Linked DNA regions of Homo sapiens: regions 1, 2 and 4 are each linked to region 3. Evidence: fine-mapped expression QTL. A gene starts in region 3. Each other region holds a variant in brackets. All regions are shown on one strand. Distances are between the middles of the regions.

The links. PIP is the estimated chance that this variant, and not a neighbour inherited with it, causes the effect. A credible set is the group of variants that fine-mapping cannot tell apart.
Region 1: its variant is the best candidate, but not a certain one, in a credible set for the expression of RAD54L2 in spleen (GTEx, PIP 0.78).
Region 2: its variant is the best candidate, but not a certain one, in a credible set for the expression of RAD54L2 in unexposed skin (GTEx, PIP 0.55).
Region 4: its variant is the best candidate, but not a certain one, in a credible set for the expression of RAD54L2 in whole blood (INTERVAL, PIP 0.66).

The regions. Positions count from the first base shown.
Region 1 is chr3:51,783,334-51,791,449 of GRCh38, forward strand. The region is part of intron 2 of LOC105377087 (a long non-coding RNA gene); the gene reads left to right. Among named protein-coding and RNA genes, the nearest start is that of IQCF6, 8.2 kb to the left of the region's middle. The variant G/A (reference allele first, on the strand shown) is at 4,024.
Region 2 is chr3:51,634,274-51,639,273 of GRCh38, forward strand. It overlaps RAD54L2 (RAD54 like 2), which reads left to right. Exons shown (of 23, transcript NM_015106.4): 10 at 1,320-1,516; 11 at 2,888-3,230; 12 at 3,871-4,048. Among named protein-coding and RNA genes, the nearest start is that of TEX264, 34 kb to the right of the region's middle. The variant C/T (reference allele first, on the strand shown) is at 2,584.
Region 3 is chr3:51,534,762-51,542,877 of GRCh38, forward strand. It overlaps RAD54L2 (RAD54 like 2), which reads left to right and starts at 3,958. Exons shown (of 23, transcript NM_015106.4): 1 at 3,958-4,154; 2 at 6,828-6,889. LOC105377085 (a long non-coding RNA gene) reads left to right here. Exons shown (of 3, transcript XR_940835.3): 2 at 1,025-1,226; 3 at 1,398-1,908. RefSeq lists enhancers at 3,732-4,026, 4,845-4,934 and a silencer at 3,915-4,314.
Region 4 is chr3:51,583,783-51,591,756 of GRCh38, forward strand. It overlaps RAD54L2 (RAD54 like 2), which reads left to right. Exons shown (of 23, transcript NM_015106.4): 3 at 6,585-6,777. The coding sequence starts at 6,639. Among named protein-coding and RNA genes, the nearest start is that of RAD54L2, 49 kb to the left of the region's middle. RefSeq lists an enhancer at 1-97. The variant C/T (reference allele first, on the strand shown) is at 5,749.

The DNA.
Region 1 (8,116 bases), 250 kb after region 3:
TCTCAATTCTAGTCTGTCAATCTATATATCTATCCTAATGCCAGGATAGATATCACACTGTCTTGATTATGGTAGTTTTGTAGTAAGTTTTGAAATGGAAAGTGTCAGTCCTCCAACTTTGTTTTTCGTTTTCAAGATCATTTTGTCTATTCTTAGACCCTTGCAATTCCATATGAACTTTAAGATTAGCTAGTCCATTTCTGCAAAGAAAGACAGTGGGAATTTTGACAGGGATTACAGTAAATCTGTAGATTAATTTGGGGAGTAGTCTTCCAACACACGAAGACGGAGTATCTTTCCATTCCATTTACATCTTTAATTTCTTTCTATGGTGTTTTGTAGTTTTCATTGTATATGTCTTTCACCTGCTTTGGTTAAATTTATTCCTAAGTATTTTATTCTTTTTGATGCTATTACAAATGGAATTGTTTTCTTAATTTCATTTTTGAATTGTTCACTCCTAGTGTGTAGAAATACACATGATTTTTGTATGTTGATCTTATATCCTGCAACTTTGAAGAATTAGTTTTTTAGCCCTAATAGATTTTGTTGTGGATTCTTTAGGATTTTCTTTATGTTTTTATGTATGTAAGGTCATGTTATCTGCAAACAGATAGTTTTCTTTTCTTTCTTTTTTTTTTTTTTTTGTTTTTGAGACAGAGTCTCACTGTGTTGCCCAGGCTGGAGTGCAGTTGTGCAATCTCAGCTCACTGTACCCTCCGCCTCCTGGAAGCAATCCTCCCACCTCAGCCTCCTGAGTAGTTGGGACGTGCCACTATGCTTGGCTAATTTTTTATGATTTTTGTAGAGATGAGGTCTCATTATATTGCCCAGACTGGTCTCAAACTCCGGGACTCAGGTGATCCTCCTGCCTCAGCCTCCCAAAGTGCTGATATTACAGGTGTGAGCCACTGTGCCCGGCTAGTTTTACATCTTCCTTTCCAATTTGTGGGCATTTTAGTTTTCTTTCTTGCTTAATTTCCCTGGCTAGAACTTCCAGTACAATGTTGAATAACAGTGATGAAAACAGACATCCTTATCTTGCTCCTGATCTGAGAGAAAAATCTTTCAATCTTTCACCATTAATTATGATGCTCATTGTGGATTTTTCATAGATGATCTTTAGCAGGTTGGAAAAGTTCCCTTCTATTCCTAGTTTATTTAGTGTTTTTATCATGAGAGAGTGTTGGATTTTGTCAAATTCCTTTTTTGCATCAATTGAGGTAACTGTGTGTTTTCCCCCCTTTAGTCTGTTAATATGATGTATGACATTGATTTTTGTATGTTGAACCTTCTTTGCATTGCTGGGATAAATCCCAGTAGGTCATAGTGTATAATCCTTTTAATATGCTATTAGATTTGAGTTGCTACTATTTTCTGAGGATTTTTGAGTCTATATTCATAAGGGATATCACTCTTTAGTTTCTTATAGTGTCTTTGTCTGGCTTTGGTAACAGGGTAATGCTGGCCTCAAGGAATTAGTTAAGAAGTGCCCCTATTCCTCTATTTTTTGGAAGAATTTTAGAAGAATTGGTGTTGGTTTCTCTTTAATGTCTGATAAAATCCACCAGTGAAGACAATCGGTCCTGGATTTTTCTTTATTGGAAATGATTTGATTACTGATTCAATCTCTTTACTTGATATAGAGCTATTCAGATTTTCTAATACTTCTTCAGTTGGTTTTGGTAGTTTGTGTGTTTCTAGGAATTTGCCCATTTCATAGGTTATCTAATTTGTTTATATACAATTGTTCATAGTATTATTTTATAATCTTTTTTATTTCTATAAAGTTGGTAGTAGTGTTCCCACTTTCATTTCTGATGTTAGTACTTTAAGTCTTATGTCTCTTTGCTTGTTTAGTGTAGCTAAAGGTTTGCCAATTTTTGTTGATATTTTTAAAGAATCAACTTTTGGTTTTGCTGATCTATAGTTTTTCTTAATTTTCTATTTAGTTTATCTCTGCTATAATCTTACTATTTCTCTCCTGTTGGCTTTGTGTTTAGTTTGCTCTTCTTCTAGTTTCTCAAGGTAGAATGCTATACTTTTTCTAGTTTCTTTAGGTAGAAGGCTATGTTATTGAGATCTTTCTTTTTTTTTAATGAATGTAGCCATTTGCAGCTATAAATTTCCTTCTGAGCACTGCTTTTGATGCATTCCACAGGTTTTTGCACATTGTGCTTTTATTTTCATTCATATCAAAGTAAATTCTATTTTTTTGTGATTTATTCTTTGACCCATCAGTTGTTTAGAAGTGTGTTGCTGATTTCCTCAAATTGGTGAATTTTCCATATTTCCTTTGATTGTTGATTTCTATGATCATTCCACTGTGATCAGAGAAGATATTTTTATGATTTCAATCATTTTCAATTTATTGAGACTTGTTTTGTGGCTTAACATATGGTCTATCCTGGAGAATGTTTTGTGTGTACTTAAAAAGAATGGGTATTCTGCTGTTGGATGAGTACTCTATATAGGTTCGATAAGTCTAGTTGCTGTGTAGTGATGTACAAATATTCTATTTCCTTGTTTATCGTTTGTCTAGGTGATCATCTATTCATTATTGAAAGTGGGATGTTGAAGTCTCCAACCATTGTTGTTGAACTGTTTATTTCCCCCTTTATCTGGGTCAGTTTTTGCTTCTTATACTTTGGGGCTCTTATTAGGTACATATATGCTTATAATTATTATGTATTAATGGATTGACTCATCATTATACAATGCTTTTGTCTATTGGAAGAATTTTTTGTCTTACATTCTATTTTGTCTAATATTAGTTATTCTCTAGTGTCCTTTCATTTCCACCAGAGGGACTTCCTTTACCCATTCTTAAAGGGCAGGTTGTGTAAGATCAAGCCAAGTGAACGGGTCAAACATTTTACCCAGAGCCAGAGAGGAAATGTTATAAAACTGGGTAAGCTCACAAAATACCTGTACTTGTTGGGCCATGGCCTTTAGATTGGTTTATACGTGGTCAGAGTTATTTATATACATGCAATAGGTTGCTCCTTAGATGGCGCAGACTCCCTCCCCTCTGCTCTGACCAGGAACTAATCTAGGGTGAGGTGATTATCTAATACCACCTGGGCTAGAGAGTCATGTGATTGTTGCACCAGGGTGAGACTGTGCTATATCAGATTTATGTGTTGGGACAGCATAGCTGACAAGTTTGTATTGACCTAAATGATTTGTTGCTGTGTTACAGTGGCAGTACTCATTACAGTTCCTGCTAGTGAATAAGCCTGCTCCTAAGAGTATGGAAATAAAAATAGCTCACATTTGTCAGAATGAATATGGTCTGGCTGGGAACCAAGGGGTCTTGGCTACTTGAATATAAGGGAGGGCCCAAAGACATTAGGTAGTGATATGGTTTGGCTATGTCTTCACCCAAATGTCAATTTGAATTGTATCTCCCAGAATTCCCACATGTTGTGGGAGGGACCCAGGGGGAGGTAATTGAATCATGGGGGCCAATCATTCCTGTGCTATTCTCATGATAGTGAATAAGTCTCAAGAGATCTGATGGGTTTATCAGGGGATAGTGAATAAGTCTCAAGAGATCTGGTGGGTTTCTGTTTTTGCTTCTCTCTCATTTTTCTCTTGCTGCCACCATGTAAGAAGTGCCTTTCATCTCCTGCTGTGATTGTGAGGCCTCCCCAGCCATGTGGAACTGTAAGTCCAATTAAATCTCTTTTTCTTCCCAGTTTCAGGTATGTCTTTATCAGCAGCATGAAAATGAACTAATATAGTAAATTGGTACCAGTAGAGTGGGGTGTTACTGAAAAGATACCTGAAAATGTGGAAGTGACTTTGGAACTGGGTAACAGGCAGAGATTGGAACAATTTGGAGGACTCAGAAGAAGACAGTAAAATGTGGGAAAGTTTGGGACCTCCTAGAGGCTTGTTGAATGTCTTTGACAAAAATGCTGATAGTGATATGAACAATAAGGTCCAGACTGAAGTGGTCTCAGATGGAGATGAGGAACTTGTTGGGAACTGGAGCAAAAGTGACTTTTGCTATGTTTT[G/A]GTGAGACTGGCAGCATTTTGCCCCTGCCCTAGAGATTTGTGGAACTTTGAACTTGAGAGAGATGATTTAGGGTACCTGGTGGAGGAGATTTCTAAGCAGCAAAGCATTCGAAAGGTGATTTGGGTGCTGTTAAAAGCATTCCATTTTAAAAGGAAAACAGATCATAAAAGTTCAGAAAATTTGCAGCCTGATGATGCAGTGGAAAAAAAAAACATTTATGGAGAAGAAATTCAAGCTGGCCACAGAAATTTGCATAAGTAGCAAGGAGCCTAATGTTAACCCCCAAGACTATGGGGAAAATGTCTCCAGGCCATGACAGAGAACTTCATGACAGCCCCTTCCATCACAGGCCTGGAGGCCCAGGGGGAAAAAGTGGTTTTGTGGGCTGGGTCCAGGGTCCCCATGCTGTGTGCACCCTAGGGACTTGGTGCCCTGTGTCCCAGGTGCTCCAGCCATGGCTGAAAGGGGACAATGTACAGCTCAGGCTGTGGCTTCAGAGGGTGGAAGCCCCAAACCTTGGCAGCTTCCACCCTCTGAAGCTGTTGAGACTGTGGGTGCACAGAAGTCAAGAATTGAGGTTTGGGAGCCTCTGCCTAGATTTCAGAAGATGTATGGAAATGCCTGGAGGCCAAGGCAAAAGTTTGCTGCAGGGCTGGGTCCCTCATGGAGAACCTCTGCTAAGGCAGTGCAGAAGGGAAATGTGGGGTTGGACCCCCCACACAGAGCCCCTACTGGGGCACTGCCTGGTGGAGCTGTGAAAAGAGGGACACTATCCTCTAGATCCCAGAAAGTTAGATCCTCTGGCAACTTGCACTGTTTGCTTGGAAAAGCCGCAGACACGCAACACCAGCCTGTGAAAACAGCCAGGAGGGAGGCTGTACTCTGCAAAGCCACAGGGGCGGAGCTGCCCAAGACCATGGGACCCCACCTCTTGCATCAGTGTGATCTGGATGTGCGATCTGGACTCAAAGGAGATCATTTTGGAGCTTTAAAGTTTGACTGCCCTGCTGGATTTTGGACTTGCATGTGCCCTATAACCCCTTTGTTTTGGCCAATTTCTCCCATCTGGAACAGCTGTATTTACCGAATACCTGTATCCTCATTATATCTAGGAAGTAACTAGCTTGCTTTTGATTTTACAGGCTCATAGGTGGAAGGGACTTGCCTTGTCTCAGATGAGACTTTGGACTGTGGACTTTTGGGTTGATGCTGAAATGAGTTAAGACTTTCAGGGACTGTTGGGAAGGCATAATTGGTTTTGAAATGTGAAGACATGAGATCTGGAGGGTCCAGGGGTGGGACAATATGGTTTGGCTGTGTTCCCACCCAAATTTCAACTTGAATTGTATCTCCCAGAATTCCCACATGTTGTGGGAGGAACCCAGGGGGAGGTTATTGAATCATGGGGGCTGGTCTTTCTTGTGTTATTCTTGTGATAGTGAATACGTTTCACAAGATCTGATGGGTTCATCAGGGGTTTCTGTTTTTCCTTCTCTCTCATTTTTCTCTTGCCACTGCCATGTAAAAAGTGACTTTCACCCTCTGCCAGGATTGTGAGGCCTCCCCAGCCATGTGGAACTGTAAGTCCAATTAAACCTCTTTTTGTTCCTAGTTTCGGGTATGTCTTTATCAGCAGTGTGAAAATGAGCTAATACAGGTAGGACACATTTGAAGTTACAGATTTGGGTCTGGACCCTGTTGTTCCCCTTGCATAAAGGGAGGCAGAAGTGGGCTGTGGGAATCAGGAGTGCATGTAATGAGTCCCAAGTTTCACAGGACCATGGTATACCCCATGGATGAATTAGAGAACCTGAAAATGGGCTATGTTACCCTAGGCCCCAAGAGGTGAAGTGACACTGAGCTCCCAAGTGTCTCCAAGTCATGTTAAATCTGGGTCAGATATGTAAACACAATCCCTGCTTGGGGTTCTGGAGGGGCAAATAACAACATGTATGCCTTGGATGCCAAGCAGTTGGGCTGTAATTTTGGGTTTTATGTTAGCAAGAGAGAGTGATATCTGTAGTGCTGGTAATTGTGCCAGACCAGGGGGAATTAGAGTAGCTCAGGGAACAGCTTTGGTGTGGTATATTAACAGGCCCAACAATTACATCTCCTGAGAAGCTTGGCTCTGATTTCATCCCACTGTGTTAAAATATTAGGACTATTAGGCTCATAAGGGGAGGTAGTAGTAGAGGGGCAGTCTGATCTCTGATGGTGTGGATGATCCTGCATTTGGGGAGACCTCAAAGGATGTGTCTAAGGTGTTGGGGGAGGAAGTGGTGAAGTGGTAGGTGGGGCAGCGGTGGTAGAAAAATAACTATCCCAACAGATGTCAAAATGTCTCCAATCCTGGAGGACCCAGAACTCAGTCCATCTCCATGTAGGAGGTGTGGCCAGACAGGGGATGGTTAGGTTAATTGGAACTCCAGTGAGGTGTGGGTAAGCACACATGACTTAGCCTGCCACAATTGGTGACAGCAGTCAAGAGTGGTCTGGCCAGTATCATGGGCCAATTGGTAGAATCACAGGCAATAATGTAAGCCAGGAGACTTCGTGACAGGGAATGCACTAGCTTGGTAAAACGCCCTTCCAAAGGTTCCTCCTCATCAGGGAACTTAGAAAGACAAATTTGAGTTCTGTAACCAAGTCCTAGATGGGGGGTGCAGGAGTTGTCAGTCATCAGTTGTCTTACCTTCCTGGACACTGTCATGGCCAAGGGTCCAGGTCAGGTAAAGGTGGTGTTGTCCCCTGTTGTCTTGGGCTGAGGCACTGTCGTCTTCTGTGTAGCAAGGTGCCACATTGTCTTGGGCTGGGTGCTATCATTGGAGCCATTTCCATCTCCAAGACTAGGTTGTCATCTCCTGACATTGATGATATCTACCAATTTTAGCACCTCCTCTTCTACAAGACAAGTATACGTCCCAGGTAGCAACTCAAAACAGGAAGATGGGGCACTGGGGGCCTACAGTGGTCCAATACATTTGGGAGGCGCTGAGCAGGCTATGTTTACATTGTTGAGACGGACTACTGAAATCACAGATTATAAGTAATCACTGAGGGTCCTTGAGGGTGCATTGTGCAAAGGCTTTGGAGGTGCTTTTTTTCTGAAGAGGAGGATATTTCCATCCATAGATAGTACACACTGCATGCATGGCCTTTGGCCAAAGAGAACACAATATATTGTGGAAATATCACCAAATCAGCTGGTATAGATCTAACCATTCTTCTTATTGACAATTAATACTCCTAATACTCCAAGGAATGGAAGTACCACTGTTTATGCATCCATTTCCTTAGCTATGGGTATTCTTTTGTTCATTGTTTTTATTTGCCACTACATATTGTGTGGCATAAATGTCTTTCATGTGTGTCATCACACACATGAAATGCTATCACTCAGGGCTTCTCATAGGACAGTGTGGCTTCTGGGCCAAAGGGTATGAAGGGTATGGGCCTATTAAATTTTAACAGATGATGCCAAACTGCCCCTTTAGAAAGCCATAATTCCACCAACCATAGTGTATGAGAACACCATGCATCTCTGCCAACAGTAGGCATTATCACACTTACAGATTCTTTTTAGTCTAAAGGGTATAAAGTAACATCTCATAGTAACTTTATTTTACATTTCTATTGCTACTGGGAGGATTGGGTATACTTTCATATGTTCATTGATAATATTAGGTTGGTGCAAAAGTAATTGCAGTTTTTGCCATTACTTTTTTTTGTTGAGACGGAGGCTCACTCTGTCACCCAGGCTAGAGGGTAGTGGCACGATCTTGGCTCACTGCAACCTCTGCCTCCCAGGTTCAAGTGATTCTCATGCCTTAGCCTCCTGAGTAGCTGGGATTACAGGCATCCGTCACCATGCCTGGCTAATTTTTGTATTTTTAGTAGAGACGGGGTTTCATCATGTTAGCCAGACTGGTCTCGAACCCCTGACCTCAGGTGATCTGCCCACCTCGGCCTCCCAAAGTGCTAGGATTACAGACATGAGCCACCGCACCTGGCCTATTTTTGCCATTACTTTCAGTGGCAAACCGCAATTACTTGTGCACCAACCTAATATATATTTGCTCTTCTATTTATATT
Region 2 (5,000 bases), 98 kb after region 3:
TGAAAAATATGTGGGCATGGTCATATTTTCCCATGCATATCGTAGTAAAATTCAACACGAAACAATGGATCTTTCCACTGTCTGATTTTTTTTTTTTTTTTTTTTTTTTTTTTTGAGACGGAGTCTTGTTCTGTCACCCAGGCTGGAGTGCAGTGGTGCAATCTCAGTTCACTGCAACCTCTGCTTCCCAGGTTCAAGTGATTCTCCTGCCTCAGCCTCCCGAGTAGCTGGGATTACAGGCACCCATCACCATGTCCGACTAATTTTTGTATTTTTAGTAGAGACAGGGTTTTGCCATGTTGGCCAGGCTGGTCTCGAACTCCTGACCTCAGGTGATCCGCCCACCTTGTCCTCCCAGAGTGTTGGGATTACAGGCGTAAGCCACCATGCCTGGTCTCTACTGTCTAATTTTTTACTTATTACATTTCACTTTTCTTAAAAACCTAATCATTAGTCACTTCTTTTAAGCACTGGTCTGCAATTGACCTTTAATGGTACAACTCCCAAAGCTTTGAAAGGTGTCAGCCTTGCTTTGTTTTAGATTTAAATAAAATTATCTATATATGTATGCCATAAAGTCAACCTGATTTCCAAAAGTCTAAAGCTATTTCTTGATCCAACAAACCAGCTCTACATGCTAACCTTTCCCCTCATTGGTGTGGATAATTGAGAAAGTAGACTTTACTATATTTTTTTCAGAGGGTGCCTTTTGTGATGTTTGGACACACACATAAAAATGAGGAGATGATTAGTTGACCTCACAGGTGGTTGCTCATTCAGGACTTTTAGTCCACATGCAATCAGTGAAATACAGTGAGTGCTCCGGTGTTTGGAAGTGGAGTGACTTACTGAGGGTCATCTGGTCTCTTCTCCTCTTTCCTCTTTACTGTTTGTGGCTCTTTATTCACTTGAGTCCAGGCAAGTAAACTGCAGAATGTTGCCCTTCCTTCTGTGACCTTGTATTTATCATGGGATTGAAATGCTCCTTCAAATGTTGAGTTGTAGTCATGCCTGAATATCCAAGGGGGTTGTCATTTTCTCTTGCCTTATGTAGTTGAATTGCTATGTTTCTTGCTGTTTAACCACCATCAATGATCCAGTTCATCCTGAGTGCAATTAGTTTCTCTGGGATGATGGGAGGTTCTTGGGTGGTAGGCTACCCCTGTGCTTGCTGCCACATGAAATCTTTGGTAATAAGAAGTTCTGAATGTACATCAACACAGCTTTGATTGTGAGCAATTCTTCCTTGGGAGCAGCAGAAACAATAATTCTTGAGATATAATTCACATCTCACACAATTTTCTCTGTTCATCTTGCAGGACGATGGCATCTCGTGCTAAAGTGATGGCTGATTGGGTGTCAGAGGGTGGCGTGCTGCTGATGGGGTACGAGATGTACAGACTCCTCACTCTGAAGAAATCATTTGCCACAGGTAGACCGAAGAAAACCAAGAAGCGTTCTCACCCAGTCATCATTGATCTAGATGAGGAAGATCGGCAGCAGGAGTTTCGGAGAGGTGGGCAGCCTATCCCAGGAATACTCTTGTTGGTGTTTCAGGAAAAAAGAAATCATGTCTACTAATAGCACCTAGTCAGATGTAAAGTGCATTATTGATGTGAATTGTTATCATGGACCAAAAATCCTGGTTCCCAAGATCAGTAGGATGACTTCCAATGGCTCTGAGAAGGTACTGCTTTCTCTGCCAGCTGTGCAGTTATGGTTAGGCCAGGCCACACACTGGCTTGGGGGAGATTCCTCTGTTCGTCTATCCCTGTTTCTCTTACAGAACAGTTGGAATAGTAACCATTTCCTTTACCACTTTCTAGAGATGTTCTGAGAAAGCATGAAGAAAATATAAAGTGTTTAAATCACTAATATAAAGACAAAGTAGTAATACTATTGTTTGTGAATTTATAAAAAAGAATTTATCCCAGTTGTTTTTAGTGAAAACCATTCCTGTCATAGTTCTAATTCTACTCCATCTTCTAAGGGGCCTTTGCTCATTTGGGGAAGAATGTTTTTAAGGGTTCAGAGGCCATTTCACTTTAGAAGTCTCTTCATCTATGAGATTATGTTTGTTCTAGGTTTGCTTCTATGGTAGAGCTGGGATGAATTTGCCATTTAGCAATGACTGGAAAATAACTGCGGGAAGACCCTGTCCTTTAGCTAGCTCCTACCAGCCAGCCCTCAGATGGAGTCAAGACGCTGGCAATGGTGAGAGCCTACTAAAGTGTCTGGATTATTCCTATTGGTTTCATCCAGGTGCATTTTTAATCCTAGGCTGGCACTCTGTAAGGTCCCTCTCTCTGCTGCCCAGTTGGTCTAAGCCCTAGGAATGCAAGTCAGTTATACTTTTCACATAAAGAAAAATAAAGTAAGGAAAGGAACGGAACGGGGGAAAGGGATATTTATTGCAAGAGTCAACTGCCAGAGGCAGATCATGAGGTCAGGAGTTCGAGACCAGCCTGGCCAACATGGTGAAACACCATCTCTACTAAAAATACAAAAAATTAGCCAGGCATGGTGGCGCATGCCTCTAATCCCAGCTACTTGGGAGGCTGAGGCAGGAGAATCGCTTGAACC[C/T]GGGAGGCAGAGGTTGCAGTGAGCGGAGATTGCGCCACTGCACTCCAGCCTGGACGACAGTGTGAGACTCTGTCTCAAAAAAGAAAAAAAAAGAGTCAACTGCCAGATTAGCATTCATACCAAGTCATACCAGTCATATCCAGGAGCTTGAATGGCTGGCACCCTCTCACCAAGGGGGGCTGACTCTTGCTTTCCTGCTTCCTTCATTTCTTCTGTCTCCTCCAGGGTGCACCCCTACTTCTCATATTATTGACTAAGAGCAGGCCCTGTCACCCTCTGACTCCGGATCCTCTTCCCTCCCTAGAGTTTGAGAAGGCTTTATGCCGCCCTGGCCCTGATGTAGTAATCTGTGATGAGGGACACCGCATCAAAAACTGCCAGGCCAGCACCTCACAGGCTCTGAAGAATATCCGCTCTCGCCGCCGGGTGGTGCTGACTGGGTACCCTCTGCAAAACAACCTCATTGAGTACTGGTGCATGGTGGACTTTGTGCGCCCAGACTTCCTTGGCACCCGGCAGGAGTTCAGCAACATGTTTGAACGCCCTATCCTGAATGGGCAATGTATTGACAGCACACCTCAGGACGTCCGCCTCATGCGGTACCGGAGCCATGTCCTGCACAGTCTTCTGGAGGGCTTTGTGCAGAGGTGAGCCATCCTCAGGGTCCTGCTTCCTGAATTTTCAGAGGGCCCTGTTGCCAAGGGCATGCCAAACCTGTTATACAGGATAGGGTGTTGGAGTAGGAGGGCCCCTTCCCTGGGGCAGTAGTAAAACTTTGCTTCCTGTGACAAGCTAGCAGATGGTGGATATCCACTGTTTCAGTTCTCTGAAAGTTTGGCCTAGAAGTGCTTCTCTCAAAAGTTATCTTTAAAGGTACTGGAGACACCTGTCTTACTTGCTGAGAGAAGCAAGAAAAAGGTACCATTCTGCTGACTTACCTTAGGCTAGTCTAAAGCAGACCCCTCATTTTTCCTTGTTGAGATGGCATATGGAGCGAAAGCTCAGAGAGGCAGCCCAAATTAAAGTAAGAACCTCAAGTTCCCCTGTCTCTGTCATGCAGTCAGACTTGACCTGGGACAGGTCACTCTGCCTCTTAGTGTTAGTTTTCATCCTTAAGGTGAGTTTCTTCTTGGTTGTTGAACCACTCTGCATTATTGCAAGGCTGCAGTGCATGTTGAGATCCTCAAGAGGGAGGTGTGGCAGGAGTGCAAAAGGCTCTGTTTTTATCTTGTGCTGACCCCTCCTGGCCACACTACCTTGCCGTTTCTGTTCTGTTTGCCTCCATAGGAGAGGCCACACTGTGCTGAAGATTCATCTCCCTGCCAAGGAAGAAAATGTGATCCTTGTGCGGCTCTCCAAGATCCAGCGAGATTTGTATACACAGTTCATGGATCGCTTCCGGGACTGTGGTAGCAGCGGTTGGCTGGGGCTGAACCCCCTTAAGGCATTCTGTGTGTGTTGCAAGGTGCATTGGGGCCTCAGGGAAGATTGAGATGGGGACTAAGGATACACATGGTCCCAAGGGAGTTACTCCTACTGAGAGTCTTCAATAAAGGGAGAATAAAGTGAGAGGGGGCCACCTCAGTTCACTGCACTGGAGGTTTGGGGGCTCCAAGGAGAGAGGTGATGGTTTTGTACCACATAACTCCTGGGGGTGCCATTCACACAGTGTAATATAACTGATGCCCCCTGCAGTGTGCAACTCAGCTGCACAACTTGTTATTCCAAGGGGATTAATGGAAAAATACTGTGGGGCAGCGTTTTTGACTGCTAGCATAATCAGAATTCAAGAGATATATAGCTTAGACAAGTTATTAGGGGTACCTTCCATTGGATTCCATACTTAATCAGATTGAGACCTCTCTCATTCTTTTCTTGAGGGACCTGTTTCATTGACTTCATACCTCTACCCCTGGCTACTCTTCAGCAGACCTGTTAGGTATTATTCTTAATTGACCACTGCTTTAATAAGTCAGCAGAAGGTATGTGTCTGGGGACAAGAGGGGTTTCCAAATATTTCTTTTATAGCCACAGTCCTGGGTCAAGGCCAGGAAACTAAGGCAAGCGTGGTCTGTGATGATGCTTTGGTATCACTGCATCCTTCCTTCTTCCTTTCCTCTCTTCTCCTGGGAGTTCTCAACTCTTGCTAGGAATACTCTGTGAAATGATATGTGATTGGTCTACTATAAGTCAGATACATTTTGTCTATAGTTTTATACAGTAGCAGACTGTAGCCACACTGTGAAACTGGAACATTCTTACTCTTATTTGAATAAGAATGTCAAAAAGGCTTGTGACAGCTTTTTTGATTATGTATCAAACATACTTACTGGCATGGCTCCTGGTATGCATGCTGCCATTCATGTGTCATGGTGACCAGAACTGATAATCAAAACAAATATGCAGGCCCTTTGGCT
Region 3 (8,116 bases):
ATTCCCCAGCATTGGGTACAGTGCCTGGTACATCTTTTATTTATTTATTTATTTATTTATTTATTTTTGAGACGGAGTCTCGCACTGTCACCCAGGCTGGAGTGCAATGGCGTCATCTCGGCTCACTGCAAGTTCTGCCTCCTGGGTTCACGCCATTCTCCTGCCTCAGCCTCCTGAGTAGCTGGGACTACAGGCGCCCGCCACCACGCCTGGCTAATTCTTGTATTTTTAGTAGAGACGGGATTTCACCATGTTAGCCAGGATGGTCTTGATCTCCTGACCTCATGATCCGCCCGCCTTGGCCTCCCAAAGTGCTGGGATTACAGGCATGAGCCACCGTGCCTGGCCAGTGCCTGGTACATATTGGTACCCAGTAAATAGTTGCTGAATGGGGAATTTTATGGCGTAGCAATTATGCTAGGCCGTCATTAGATACTGGGGTCGATTTTTAAAAAATCTCCTAGGACATTATAATCTGGGTGATGAGTGGTATACAAGCAGAAAAGGTAAAAATATCCCAAGAATGGGATGACTGTTGAAGAAAGCAATACAACCCTTTGTCACCTTGGAATCTGGTTCAGAGTGATCATGGCTTTGGCATTCAGAAGTGAGGGGGGGCCATTAAGTGTGGCTGGTGGGTGCAGGATTGATCTAACTCTCACGGAATAAGCAGGAGGTGAAACAGATAAAATGAAGAGGGTGGCTTGAACCTGGGAGGTGGAGGATGCAGTGAGCCGAGATCACGACACTGCACTCCAGCCTGGGTGACAGAGCAAGACTCCATCTCAAAAAAAAAAAAAAAAAAAAAAATGAAGAGAGTGTTTTTCCATGTGTGTTTTCATGGTGATGAAGAAAACCTTGTTCTGGTTTCTGATTAACCAACAAGTCCCTGGTGAATTTTGCCTAATCCCAGAAGGGCAGTCCCAGATCTTTTAAACTCACTTAAAGGTATAGCCAACAATAGGCAGGTGTATGCATAAATCACTCTAGGGACTTCCCCTAATAGAACCAAATCTTTCTACAGGTGAATTTTGGGGTACCATGAATCTCAGAGGTTGTTGTGCGGGCATGACATCATCCAAGTAGTCAGGGAATTTCTAGAAGGGTGGGGAAACAGATGTTACAGAAGGACAATGCCATCCTGGGAGGAGGGAATGGAAGAGGCTTCCATCACCAGGGGAGCTAGCTCTGGCCTTTGTGGCTCCTACTTTAGTGACATGAGAAAGGTAAGTGTCTATGTTTTGGTGGTTGTGCCTTAAGTCTTTTAATTGGGGGCCAGGGGATGGGGGTGGGGGGATTAACAATAGGAGTGTGTGTGTGTGTGTGTGTGTGTGTGTGTGTGTGCGTTTAAATATATCTGGCCAACCTGACTGGTTTCTTTCTCCTCTCTTTGGTAGTCTCTGGGGCTTTCATGTGAACCTGTTTCAACTCCTGAGGCCAAATATGCTCTATGTGTCACCCGGAGAGTCCCAGCTAAGAGGCCAAATGAGTAAAATGCAAGACATGAAGCTGGGAGGGGTCGGAATGCTGATCTGACCTCAGGCTGCTGGAGAGAAGTTAACTAGCTTTTTAAAATTTTTATTTATTTTTTTAAGAGATAGTGTCTTGCTATATTGCCCAAGCTGAACTTGACTTCCTGGGCTCAAGTGAGCCTCCTGCCTCAGCCTTCTGAGAAGCTGGGACTACAGAAATGTGCCACTGCACTTGGCTGGAACCAGCTTTTGAGGCATTCTTTGCCTCTGAAGAACCTAGGATGAAGTTCCTCTTACCTGAGGAAGCGGAGAAGCTTCCAGAGGCTTTGACTGTGCTGCTTTCTAACCCATGAGCCTGCTGTTTCCAGAAGGAACACTCTATTAGTCTGTTCTCACACTGCTATAAATAAATGCCTGGCACTGGATAATTTATAAAGAAGAGGTTTAATTGGCTCATGGCTGTACAGAAAGCATGATGCTGGCATCTGCTGGGCTTCAGGGGAGGACTCAGAAAACTTACATTCATGGTGGAAGGCGAAGGGGGAGCGAGCACCTCACAAGGCTGGAGTAGGAGGAAAAGAGAAGTGGGGGGAGGTGCCATACACTTTTTTTTTTTAAGACAGCCTCACTGTTGCCCAGGCTGGAGTGCAGTGGCACAATCTCAGCTCACTGCAATCTCCACCTCCTGGGTTCAAGTGATTCTCCTGCCTCAGCCTCCCGAGTAGCTGGGATTGCAGACACACACCATCATGCCTGGCTAATTTTTGCATTTTTAGTAGAGACAGGGTTTTGCCATTTTGGCCAGGCTAGTCTCAAACTCCTAACCTCAGGTGATCCACTTGCCTCGGCCTCCCAAAGTGCTGGGATTATAGGTATGAGCCACCGCGCCTAGCCGACACCATACACTTTTAAACAACCAGATCTTGTGAGAACTCACAAGAAGAGAACCAAAGGGACAGTGCTAAGCCATTCATGAAGGATCTACCCCCATGATCCCATTACTTCCCACCAGACCCCACCTCCAACATTGGGGATTACAATTCAACATGAGATTTGGGTGGGGACACAGATCCATATTAGATAGCAAAGTGCCTTTTGACAGGCAGAACCCTTTCATTACCTCCAGAAAATAATATAAATGAAAAATCAGGCATATATGTGTCTCAGAAGCCAAGGGGGTATGTAAAAATGGGAAATTTGAGAACACCTGAAAATTAGGATTTTTTTTGGAACACCTTCTGCAGATCTAAATTCCCATCAAGAGTTAGCTCCAAAAATAACCGCATCTGGTATCTTAGAGGTGTGAAGGCCTAGAAGAAAAGGAAAGTGGGGACGAGAAAGGAATTGCTATCCTCTTGATTTTATGAGTAAAATACAAAGCCTTCAAAGAAAGATGCACTTTTGTAATTTAAAACATCACTTTGTCGGCCAGAGGTGGTGGCTCACGCCTGGTGGCCCAGCACTTTGGGAGGCAGAGGTGGGCAGGATCACCTGAGGTCAGGAGTTCGAGACCCGCCTGCCCAATATGGCGAAACCCTGTCTCTACTAAAAATGCAAAAAATTAGCGGGGCGTGGTGGCGGGCGCCTGTAATCCCAGCTACTCGGGAGGCTGAGGCGGGAGAATAGCTTGAACCCAGGAGGCGGAGGTTGCAGTGAGCCAAGATCCCGCCACTGCACTCCAGCCTGGGCGACAAGAGCGAAACTCCTTCTCAAAAAAAAAAAAATCATTTTGTCAACATTCACTTATTGGGAAGAGGAGAAGAGAACCTGAGGCTATAGTGGAGAGAGCCGTTACAGTCCCATCAGTAACTGGAGCCCACATGGCCACATGGCAGTAATTCCCAACTTGAGGAAGGAGAACCTGCACCCTTAACCTCCACCTGAGTGTCAGCAATCAAGAAAGCCCCCTTTTGCCTCTGCTTCTCTTCCAGGGAATTCTGAAGACAGCTTCACTTAACAGGAAACAGGATGGTAGGTGGGGACCGAGGGTGAAAAAAGAAGAGTTACATGATGCGCATAATTTCAAGGGCCCTTGAGGGCTGAGCACAACCTATGTTGGAGGCAACAGTAGCAGCAGCATTGGCAGGATCAGTAACGATCGTACCCCGGTGTAGAGCTCCCTATCTCTGAGCTAGGTATTCGCATCACCTCATTCAATCCTAACAAGCCGCCTAGATTATTCCCAATGAGAAATGAGGAGAAACTGAGGCTCAATTGAGATGCTAAATGGCTGGCGAGTGCAAAACCATTCCGTTGGACCCACCCCTAGAACCATTCTCAGGCAGCTTCTGGCTTGGGATTTCTGTGCGGCATTCATTCCAGAAACGGTCCCATCCAGGCAGGAATCGCCGTACACCCGGCGCAGGGGAACGGCCTTCAGTCGGCTCTCAGCGGAACTTTCCTCTCCGCGGCGCGTGTTCCCGTCCGTGCGGTCGGGCGCGCGGGCCGGGAGGGGGACGCTTTCTGGCGCGGACCGTGAGCGGAGGCTGGCGAGCGCCGCCGCCGGTGGAGACCGACGCTTGGCCAGAGCCAGCCCGCGGCGCCCGGGCCTGGCCGGCTGCTTCCCGCCTCAGCCGCCGCCCCCGCCTCCGCCGCCGCAGACTTTGCCTAGGCGGGCGAAGCTGAACGTGAGGTCCCTCGGCCCTGCGCGGTCCGGCGCGGCCCGGAGCCGCGGCGCAGGAGGTGAGACGCCGGTGCCGGTTCCTCGCTCCCGGCCGGGGCCGCCGGGTCCCGCAACAATGGGGACCGACTGGAGACGCGGCCTGGGCCCCTGCCATGCAGTGGCTCGGGGCAGCTAGATGGACCCAGCGGCCCGGGCCTTCGGGGCACGGGGTCCCCCACCCGGGAAACTCCAGTGGCCGGAGGCTTGGCGGGGGTCTTGGGCCTCGACCCGGGGCCTCAGTGGCTTGATATTTGAGGATTTCGTAGCCGGGGAAGGGAGTCGTAGGGACACGGAGACTTAACTGTTGCCCCTCTGCGCTTTTGGCTCTGGATGCTGGCGCCCCGGAGGATGACCAGAGCGCGGTGTGGGGTTGGGAAAGTATTTGGAATTTTAGGGGCTTCTGTGTGTCTAATCCCTAAGGCGCATCTGGATGCGTCTCCCCGACCCCCTCTCCTGAGGTCTGGGAATTTGGCAGACTGGGGTCGGGCTGGGGCAGAAGAGGCATTGAGAGTTTAGCTTCCCTGAGGTAACTGGTGATTAGTTCCTGGAAAGGCAGGAGCTCAGCTGGGCACAAGAGAGTTAAGCAGAGAGCTGGATCCTCCGGGGCCCTGATGCACCCTGACGAGGAGTGGTTTTCAGGCAAGGAACTTATCACAGGAGTGAGTAGTGGCACACGGTGAGTAGTGCTAGCTGTCTTGTCGTTAGGGTGAGGCCGGTGGGAGTTGTGGTTTGGGGAGTGTAGAGGAGGGTTGATAGGCTACTGAGATTGGAGAATCAGCTTTATGTGGGTCATGGTGGTGGCAGCCTGGGAGATGAACAAGGAAACTTTGCAGAGTGGGCTTCCTGATGGAGAGTGACCTCTTACTGCGTGGGAGTGGGTGACTCAGATCTGTTAGGATTCCTGTTGCTTGCTAGGGATTGTGGCTGACTATATTGGTGGCTGAACATTGAGGTGGATGCAACTGGAAGGGTTATGTGGGGCTGGATGAGTTTGTTCCCACGTAGAGGACAGTGTGGACCTTTCTTACTCCAAGTCAGAGTGGTGACTGTCATTGACAACATTTTAAGTAAGGAATTTCTTTGTGGTATTTGGATCCAAAGCTTTTCTCTGTTCATTTTTTTCTTTCCTCCGTTGTTTTTGAATTGTGACTCATACTTTCTTTTCAGCACTGTGGCTATTTGAAATGATAGACAAACTTAGACTTCATCATACATGTAAGTTCCAGGCGTTTTCAGTCCAATTCTTATAAATCTAAATTTAAAAGCTTCTTTTCACTAATTTGTGTACCATTGTTTAATGTGTGCAACACTAAAGAAGGATAAGAAAACTCTAACATTTATGTTGTTAAATGGTCTTTCCATCCTTAAATCCATGAAATTTCATCTTCTCTTACTGCCATGAAGTGAGTTCGTTGAATCTATTAAATCTTAGTGACTCTCATTTCAGCATCCTTGTTTACTCTCACAGGACATTGTCTTCACTAGAAGTATTATCCATCTTCAATGAATTTGGCCTGTACACTGTCTCCCTGTGACAATCTATATCATTGAAAGACAGTACGCAAACTCCAACTCTGAGGCCTGCAGCTGTGGGCCGGAGCTCTGTATGTATTATTCAGGCAAAAGTTGGTGTGTTGTCTGTAGGTGAGGTTTAAAGGGAACCCTACATGAACAAAAACAGTATCAGAATCATTGTACCTTCTGAGTTTAGAGTGGTAGGAAATATAGCCTAACTGGAGTCTAGTATAAACTTTCAAGTGCAATGTTAGGTAATTCTGTTTGTAGTTGTACTGATAGTTCTCATTATTGTAAACATTATCTTTTTCCTTAAGCTTTAAATAATTATTTTTCTTCAATGGTATTCTTTCTTTCTTGGCTGGGTGTGGTGGCTAACGCCTGTAATCCCAACACTTTGGGAGGTCGAGGCGGGCATATCACATGAGGTCAGGAGATTGAGCCTGCATGGCGAAACCCTGTCTCTACTAAAACTACAAAAATTAGCCGGTGGGGTGGCATGTGCCTGTAGTCCCAGCTACTCTGGAGGCAGAGGGACAAGAATCACTTGAATCTGGGAGGCAGAGGTTACAATGAGCCGAGATCGTGCCACTGCACTCCAGCCTCAGCGACAAAGCGAGACTCTGACTCAAAAAAAAAAAAAAAAAAAAAAAGTAGTATTCTTTCTCTTTCTCCATTCATTCTTTCATAAACGAACATTTATTGCATTTTGCCAGGCACTGCTTTGGGCACCTCAAAAATGCTGATGATATTTTTTAACATTTTGTTAGTGGTAGTTCCTGGTTTAGAGGTGGTTATAGGTCTATGAAGAAAGAAGTGATTCAGGTATATCAAGCTTTTAATCAGTAAAGACATTGAATAAAGTTTTTATAATGTATTAATTTTGACTGGTGACAGTTAATTATCTTAACATCTCCATGGAAAAAGTTTAGCTATCACTGTGAGTTCATGCTGGTATGGGATTATTTTTGCACTATTTTATACACCTGTTAATTTTAAGTACTCCTGTAGACAAACCACAGGTAAAACATTTTGTTTTGGTGTATGTCTCAACGAGCAGTGATTTACAAATACTATATGTGTTCAGATTCCCCAGGAAGCCATCACACTCCTTCCCACTGTGGTTTTGGGAGCATGAAGGCGTTGCTTATCCCCTATGTCTGGTTCACTGTATGTAGGCTGGGAGTGTCTGCTGATCACTTGGAGTGCTGTCCCTTGGAACAGGAGGAGTAAGATTGAGGTAAGGCTCAGTCTGTTTGAAAGTCATTTGCTTCTTAATTTTTACTGCATAAAATATAATGTAAATCTGAATGTTTTTTGCTTTGTTACTCTTCATTCTGATCTATTAAAATGAAATTCTGCCTTTTGCTGTCTATCTCTCTGTGTATATATCTTGGGCAAAAATAAATGAAGAAATGTAAAATCAAGGTATTTAAATAATAAATGAATTCTTCAAAATAGCTCTCATTTTCCATCTGGACTATTCACTTGATCAAAGAAAATAAAAACTTGTTTATTTGTTGCCTTAAAGGCAAGGTGATTGCTTAAATAAATGTTTTTGGCCACCTCTTAGTTAAATGGATCAACTTCAGAAACTCTTGGAAATAAGGCTTAGAGTTTTCTATTTCTTTAGAAAAAGTCTGAGAGAAGAAATGTCTGGTACAATGGGAAGAGCTTGGTTTTTGGAGTCTTCCCACTTTTTCTTGCTCAATTTTTGACCCTTGATAAGCTGTTAACCTCTCTGAGCTTTGGTTTGGTTTTGTTTTTCCATCTGTAAAATGGGCCTAATACAGCCTTCTTTGCAGATTGCATCGAGGACTGGAGATGAGGGCCTCAAGCTTTGAGGGTGGTCAGTGCTGGTTGTCAGTAGTAGTTAATGTGTATTATTATATAGGACCTCTAATCTCAGTAGTATTAATAGTAGGAATGTGGCTGGGTACTGTGGTGCTGTGCAGGATTCAAGTTTCCTTGTCTGGTGAGGAAGGCAGCTGTCTGCACCTGTTGGCACTCTGGACAGGTGAGGAAATTTTGAGGTTGTCTTTTTTTTTTTTTTGAGACGGAGTCTTGCTCTGTTGCCCAGTCTGGAGTGCAGTGGTGCGATCTCGGCTCACTGCAAGCTCCACCTCCCAGGTTCACGCCATTCTCCCGCCTCAGCCTCCCTGGGATTACAGGCCTCCCGAGTAGCTGGGACTACAGGCGCCTGCCACCACACCCGGCTAATTTTTTGTATTTTTAGTAGAGATGGGGTTTCATCGTGTTAGCCAGGATGGTCTCGATCTACTGACCTCGTGATCCGCCCGTCTTGGCCTCCCAAAGTGCTGGGGTTACAGGTGTGAGCCACCGCGCCTGGCCAAGGTTGTCTTTATTCAGTGCCGGTAGGCAGGAGTCCACACTATAAAGTCCAAGGTCATTCCTGGCAGTAGAAGGTTTTTTCCTGACAGTTTGTATGGGGAAGCCAGGAGGTAAC
Region 4 (7,974 bases), 49 kb after region 3:
CGAGGAATTTTTTTGTACTTTATTAACATAAAAATCCATTTTTTATCTTGCACTTTGAATGGCTTTTTTTTTTTTTTTAAACTGGGGTAGCCTCTTGAGCCATGGTGGGCTCAGAGACTCCCTGAATGGCTCTTTAAACCATAATTTTGACATTGTGGTTCCATTGAAAGGGTCTTGGGGACTCCCAGGGGTTCCCAGACCACACTTTGAGAATTGCTGTTTTAGAATCTGGAAGAGATCTTGAAGATTAACTCAGGCCCATTTCTCCCCTGGGTTGGAATAAGAGGAGTGATTGAAGCTGAGGGAGGACTGACTTGCCCAAAGTCATTTAGCTAGTTATTCATAGAGCTGTGGCTGGAATTAGGTTTCTTGACTGATTCTGTAAACATGTCTTTAGTGCTATGCTAGGTTCTGATTCCCTGGGCCAGGCTACATTGTGCTATCTTTTGGAGGTAGTTGTCTCCTGTGGAGAGAGTTGTCTTCTGTGGCCCTGGTCCTTCGAGTCTTGAATGCATTTGTTCACCTTTTGTTTCTTATTTTCTCTTAAGTTTCAAATTGCCAAAATCATCATTATATTTCCAAGTAAAATGTTGAGCTGTTGTGTCAGTTTAGCTCTGTGGCTGCTTTGTGTGTATCTAAATTTTCTTTATGTAACTGATAGACACTCAAAAGGCATTGGGCTACATGGAGGTTTGAAGTATGCATTGGGTGTGATTGGAGTAGTGTCTGTTTTGCATAGGAAGGTATTTGGAAAGAACTTTAACAGTCCATAGTGGATCTCTCAGCAGACTGGAAGAATTCTGTGGGTACTTGGTGAGTACTATACTCCGTATAGTACTCTACAGTACTATATATATATATATATATGCTATATATACTATAATATATATACTCTATAGTACTTACTATAGAGTAACTGAACTTTCTTTTGTCTTTGAATTATATAAATTCCTTGTCTATTTTTTTTAAGGGTATTGACCAAAACTTTGGACTGAATGTTTTCCTGCTGTTCTTTTTAAAAATTTTTTATTTATTTATTTATTTTTCGAGACTGGCTCTGTTACCTAGGCTGGAGTACAGTGGTACAGTCATGGCTCATTGCAGCCTTAACCTCCCGGGCTCAAGTGATTCTCCCACCTCAGCCTCCCAAGTAGATGGGACTACAGGTACACACCACTATGCCTGGCTAATTTTTTTTTTGTAGAGGTGGGGTCTTCTCTACAAAAAAGCCCAGCCCAGGCTGGTCTCAAACTCCTGGGCTCAAACGATTCTCCTGCCTCAGTCTCCCAAAGTGTTGGGATTATAGGAGTGAGCCACTATGCCTGGCCTGTTTTTCTACTCTTAAAAGACTTTCTTCCCCTTGTAAATTAGCTCAAATCCAGTGTTTTGTATAGATATTCTTCAAGAAAAAAAACAAGTCATTTGCGCTTGCTGTGGACTTGCTTTGAGACCACTTGACAGAATTTAGTACTACTGAAGGTCACCAAAATTAATGAGGACATGGCAGTCTGGGAAGGATCTTTTTATTTAAAAGGAACAATCATGATGCTATCAAGGACCATAATGACATCTGTGAAATTTCATGAGCTGCCTCACAATGATGAGGCAGCGTGTGTGCTCGGAGTCTTATGATTTCAGTGTGAACTCTGCAAGCCTGGTCGTCTGCTTTGTGAACAAAGGCTTTGTTTGTGTGTGTGTTTCCTCTTGTGTATATCCTAATATCCCCACCTTGCCATGCCTCATGTCTCTAAGGCCTGTGCCTGCATGATTAATTCTGCTGATTGTTGGCCAGGTACCACTCTATTGACAGGTGGCGTTGTCTTTGAACTTAGCAAGGCAGAACAATATTTTCCTTCACTCTCACGATTGCTATGAGGTGCTAGGCTAGGATTGGCTATGGGTTTCTTCATAATTACAGCCTCCTTTTAACAAACCTAATATATTAAACTGTAGACTTATTAAAACACTTAGGGGTTGAATATTTGCTTTTCAGAGCGGTCCTCTTTAGAGTTCCTTTAAATAGCTAGTTCTCCAGTTTCATTAAAATACAATTTGATTCCCAGAACTTGCACTGTAAGAACACAGGTCCTCATTAAGGTGCAGCATACCCATTATTGCTCTCCTGGTTTCTGTGTATTAGAGGCAGAGCCCCTTGTCACTGGAGATTGTAGCAGTGTTTTGCCTAGAATGAGGAGCAAATGAGGGAGATGGATTATTTTCTTTATCACCACCCCGCCCCCACCGCCACCAACCATGTCTGTCTAACAGTTCTGCTAAGAGCTGACTACTGAATCAAGGCTGCCTTGTGTTCTGAAAGGCTATGCCCACATAGACGTATGTGTGTGTGAGGGTGGAGCCCCTTAGAGAAGAATACAGTTGACTGCTGCTGCCCACCAAGACCAGCCTTTCCTCCTTTTCACTTGTTGCCTGGGCTCAAGTGATCCTCCTGCCTCAGTCTCCCAAGTAGCTGGGACTACAGGTGCACACCACCAAGTCCAGCTAGTTTTTGTATATTTTGTAGATATGGGCATCGCTGTGTTGCCCAGGCTTGTCTTGAACTCCTGGGCTCAAGCAATTCCCCCACCATGGCCTCCCAAAGTGCTGGGATTACAGGCATGAACCATCACACCAGGCTCTTTGTTGCCTTTGTTTTTTTTTTTTTGGAAGTCTCTGTCGCCACCACACAATTTCTTCTCTAGAATGACAGGCATTCAGGTTGCCTAAAAGTACTTGCTAATTAAAAATGGTTCTCTAAAATCAGCCAAGCACACTGCAAAGAAAACACTTTTTTTTTTTTTTTTTTGAGATGGAGTTTCACTCTTGTTGCCCAGGCTGGAGTGCAGTGGTGGGATCTCAGCTCACTGGAATCTCCACCTCCTGGGTTCAGGCGATTCTTCTGCTTCAGCGTCCCGAGTAGCTGGGATTATAGGCATGCGCTACTATGCCTGGCTAATTTTGTATTTTTAGTAGAGATGGGGGTTTCACCATGTTGTTTGGGCTGGTCTTGAACTCCTGACCTCAGGTGATCTGCTCACTTCAGCCTCCCAAAGTGCTGGGATTACAGATGTGAGCCACCATGCCTGGCCAAAACACTCTTATCTCAAGGAGTCTAGGATGAAAGAGAGGGGTTGTGCTGTTTACAACCATTGACTTCCAAACACAGAGTAGTTACTGATGAATATACTAACATTCAGAAATAAATTTCACTGCAAATATTAAGAAGTAAATTTTACTTTCAAAGTTGTTGATATCTAATTGATTTACTACTTCCTTTCTAAAACCTATTAAATGAACCAGTGACACAGGGTAGTGATTTCTTTCTTTTTTTTTTTCTCGAGATGGGAGTCTCGCTGTGTCGCCCAGGCTGGAGTGCAGTGGCGTGATCTCGGCTCACTGCAAGCTCCGCCTCCCGGGTTCACGCCATTCTCCTGCCTCAGCCTCCCAAGTAGCTGGGACTACAGGCGCCCGCCACCACGCCCGGCTAATTTTTTGTATTTTTTAGTAGAGACGGAGTTTCACACGTGTTAGCCAGGATGGTTTTGATCTCCTGACCTCGTGATCCGCCTGCCTCGGCCTCCCAAAGTGCTGGGATTACAAGCATGAGCAACCACGTCTGGCCGGATAGTCGTTTCTGCAGAGATTTAAAATCTGCCAGGTCACTAAGTGAATGGTAGCTCAGCATTAACTATATGAATTTGTATTTGTCGATCACATTTATCCCCTGTCCCTTAATGCCCTTTGCAGATGTTTTTGGAAGTGAGTTATTAATGCAAAAATTTAAATTTTATTACTAGATCATTTCACAGCTGTTTTTTACTTTGAGAGGCTAAGTACATGAACCATCTGCACACACACACTCGTAATTCCTGTTATTTCTAACTCTGAACAATTCTTAAGTTCTAGTTTTCCAAAACTCTAAATAATCTAGTTTGCTTTTCTTTTTTTCTTTTCTGTTCAGGAGAAGATAGATGTTATGTTTCAAATTATCTGAAGCTTAGTAAGATATTGCAGTTCTGCAGTACTTTTTATGTTAAATGACTAGAGACTTGTACTTCAGTTTTTATTTTGGGAGATAGGAATTTGAGGATGATCTGATTGTTGATGTATTTATCTGCAGCAGTTTGTCTTGTAAAAGATGATTTATGGCCGGGTGCGGTGGCTCATGCCTGTAATCCCAGCACTTTGGGAGGTCAGGAGATCGAGACCATCCTGGCTAACACGGTGAGACCCCGTCTCTACTAAAAATACAAAAAATTAGCCGGGCGTGGTGGCAGGCGCCTGTAGTCCCAGCTACTTGGGAGGCTGAGGCAGGAGAATGGTATGAACTCAGGAGGTGGAGCTTGCAGTAAGCCAAGATCGCACCACTGCACTCCAGCCTGGGTGACAGAGTGAGACTCCATCTCAAAAAAAAAAAAAAAAAAAAAAAAAAAGATGATTTACCTCTTCTCTGATTTTAGTGTGAAAATTTGAGGCTGGGCACAGTGGCTGATGCCTGTAATCCCAGCACTTTGGGAGGCTGAGGCGGGAGGATCACCTGAGGTCAGGAGTTAGAAAACAGCCTGGCCAACATGGTAAAACCCCGTCTCTGCTAAAAATACAAAAATTAGCTGGGTGTGGTGGTGCACACCTGTAGTTCCAGCTACTCGGGAGGCTGAGGCAGGAGAATCACCTGAACCCAGGAGGTGGAGGTTGCAGTGAGCTGAGATCGTGCCACTGCATGCCAGCCTGGGTGACAGAGTGAAACTGCATCTCAAAAAAAAAAAAAAAAAAAAGAAAAGAAAATTTGAAATATACAGAAAAAATGGAAAGAATTGGTCAGTGAATTTACTAGTTAACATTTTGCTATATTTACTTTATCAAAGAGCTAACCCAACTAGCCATCTCTTTACCATGGTTTTTATTTTTTTACCCTCACGAAGGAATGGCCTTTACAGCTAATAGTAAAGTGATAAGAGAGACAGACATGCACAGTGCCTGACACATGATAGACATAGTATAGCAGGTTAGCAAATGATGGACTGAATGTGAATGAATGAATAACTTGGGTAAAACATACTTCTAGCTCCTGTGTACTCCCAGCCACTCCTCCTCTGCCGTTGGTGCTCGGTCTTCCTGGAACACACTCCCTCAAGATGTCTTTACGGCTTCCTTCCTTCCTTTTGGTTTCTGCTCAGTGAGAACTTCACTGACCTCCCCTATATAAACTAGCAGCTCCTCCTGCCACACACCAGCCCTAAGTATTCCCTGCATGCTTTGTTCTGCTTCCTGCTGTGTCCCCAAACTCTAGAATAGCACCTGCGATTATATACAACTGTTCCTCCATGTACAATGGGGTTACATCCTGATAAATGCATCGTAAGTTGAAAATATTGTAAGTTGAAAGTCTATTTAATACACCTAACCTACTGAACATCATAATTTGGGCTAGACTACCTTAAAGGTGCTCAGAACACTTAACACTGTCTTAGCCAGGCATGGTTGTATGTGCCTGTCGTCCTAGCTACTCAGGAGGTCTTAGGCAGAAGGATTGCTTGAACCCAGGAATTTGAGGCTGCAGTGAGCTATGATTGTGCCTCTGCACTCCACCCACACTCCAGCCTGGCCAACAGAGCTGGACCTTGTCTAAAAATAAATAAATAAAATAAAGAGCACTTACATTGTCTACAGTCAAAATCATCTGGCAGCACAGAAAACTGCACACTTCATGATAGCATGGTGGACTGGAAGCTTTGGCTCATTGCTGTTACT[C/T]AGCATTGCCAGAGAGTATAGTTCCATATGTCACTAGCCTGGGAAAAATTTAAAATTTGAAGCACAGTTTCTACTGAATGTGTGTCATTTTCGCACAATTGTAAGTTAAACCATCGCAGGTTGGGGACTCTATACATATATATATATATATATACACACACACACACACACACACACATACACACACATATATGTATATGTATAAATAGATACAGAGAGTTGGTGCTCAGGAAACAGTTGATACAGGAAGGAATGAACAAATGGGATTTCCAAGGTTTATAGTTTTGTTGTTATTGTTACTTTAAGGTGTTTTCTTGTCAAAATAGCCAAGAGATGTTTGAGCTATGCAGAGTCACTAAAACATGTCTCAGAGCCAGAACACTCATAGGGAAGGTGGTGATTTGGATACGGTTAGCTTGCCTTGCTTAGAGAAGTTCCGGGGAATTCATGTTCAGCATTTTTTTCTTTGTTTTTCTTTTGGAGAGAGTCTCACCTCGTCGCTCAGGCTGGAATGCAGTGGCGCCATCTTGGCTCACTGCAACCTCTGCCTCCCCGGTTCAAGCAATTCTCATGCCTCAGCCACCTGAGTAGCTGGGATTACAGGTGTGTGCCACCATGCCTGACTAACTTTTGTATTTTTAGTAGAGATGGGTTTTCACCATGTTGGCCAGGCTGGTCTCGAACTCCTGACCTCAAGTGATCCACCCACCTTGACCTCCCAAAGTGCTGGGATTACAGGCATGAGCCACTGTGCCCAGCTAGCATTTTTTTCTTTGAAAGACTTGTGTTCCTAAGCAAAACCCTTGGTGATTCTGATGCCTTTCATCCTCTCCTAGCACCCCTGCAGTGGACCATGAGTCGGTAATGCCCACTGAGGACCTCTGGGAGCCATGTCAGACGAATCTGCCTCAGGGAGCGATCCAGACCTGGACCCGGACGTGGAGCTGGAGGATGCGGAAGAGGAGGAGGAGGAGGAGGAGGTGGCAGTGGAGGAGTGTGACAGGGATGATGAAGAAGACCTGCTGGATGGTAAGTGGGCTCTATTGAGTGACAGAAGTTGCCTTATATTTTCCTCCAGTGGAATTTTTGCTGGGAGACCTTGGCGTTTCCAGTTAGATTTCTTAGGCCATCCATAGTGGGAAGATACAGACTAGGAACTGAGATGCAATGAATTCAGATGCTCATTCCTAGGAAATAGATTATTGTTCCTCCACATAAGCTTTGTTTTACTGCTGGAAGAACCTTTAGCCTTTAGCTTGTCTCTGACAGATGTTTGGACTCAGGTCCAGAGATTCGAGTGTTGCATACTTGCCCAGGTCATGGAGGAGTCAATGGCAGAGTTCCTATGGTAAGACTTTGCAGTCTGGAGGCCATGGGCTCTTCAGGTAGATGTGAGGGTAACTGTGAGTGGTCTGTAAGTTTTCTGAAATTATACATACAATTGTGCTTGTGTGTACATGAGGGAATTGTCCAGGCAGAGATTCTTAGACAGATTCACAACTTCAGAAAGCTCACTGCATCTCCTGCAGTGCTGCGCTACCTCTTGGCCATTCCAGTGACTATAAATTGCCCCTACTGGGAGGGCACTACATCTCCATAGCTGGTAGATCCCCTTTTGATGCCTTCTATTTGGTTTGCTCAGCTCACTCCTTCCTTTGCCCTCAGCTTCTTGAAATGGCATTGAACTTTTAATGTTCAGTCTAATGTTAGGTTATTTGGCCAGCCACAAGGCTTCTCAATTAATTCCAGCCTTTTATGGCATAGGATTTAGTTGTTTGTAAGCTTCCTACTGACTGAGGAATAGGGTTTTTGTCTGTTCATAACAGACCCCCTAGTGGGACTGAACGTTGCATTAGATCATCTAATTACTTGAATCTGAAGGAACGTAGGAAAATGTACTCCTGCCGTTCTCCAGATTCCAGGAGGATGAGCACTGATCCTCTGTCTTTACTGGTGTTTACTATCTTCAGTTCTCATTCATCCTAACAGCTGTCATGTGGCTTGGGAATCCGTTTGCCCTCCTTTATACTGTCCAGAAGCCTCTCTCCATTTCTGCGGGGAAATGACCATTCACTTTTATCCCTCCAGTAGCATTTGCTGTCTGTTGCTAGCTTATTCAGTTGGAGTCTCATTTCTAGAAAGTAGAATGAATAGAAATAATGGAAGACAGTAATGTTTGCTTGGCTCTCATTGTTCCTGAGATGCTGTTAGAGTCCCTAGGTGTCA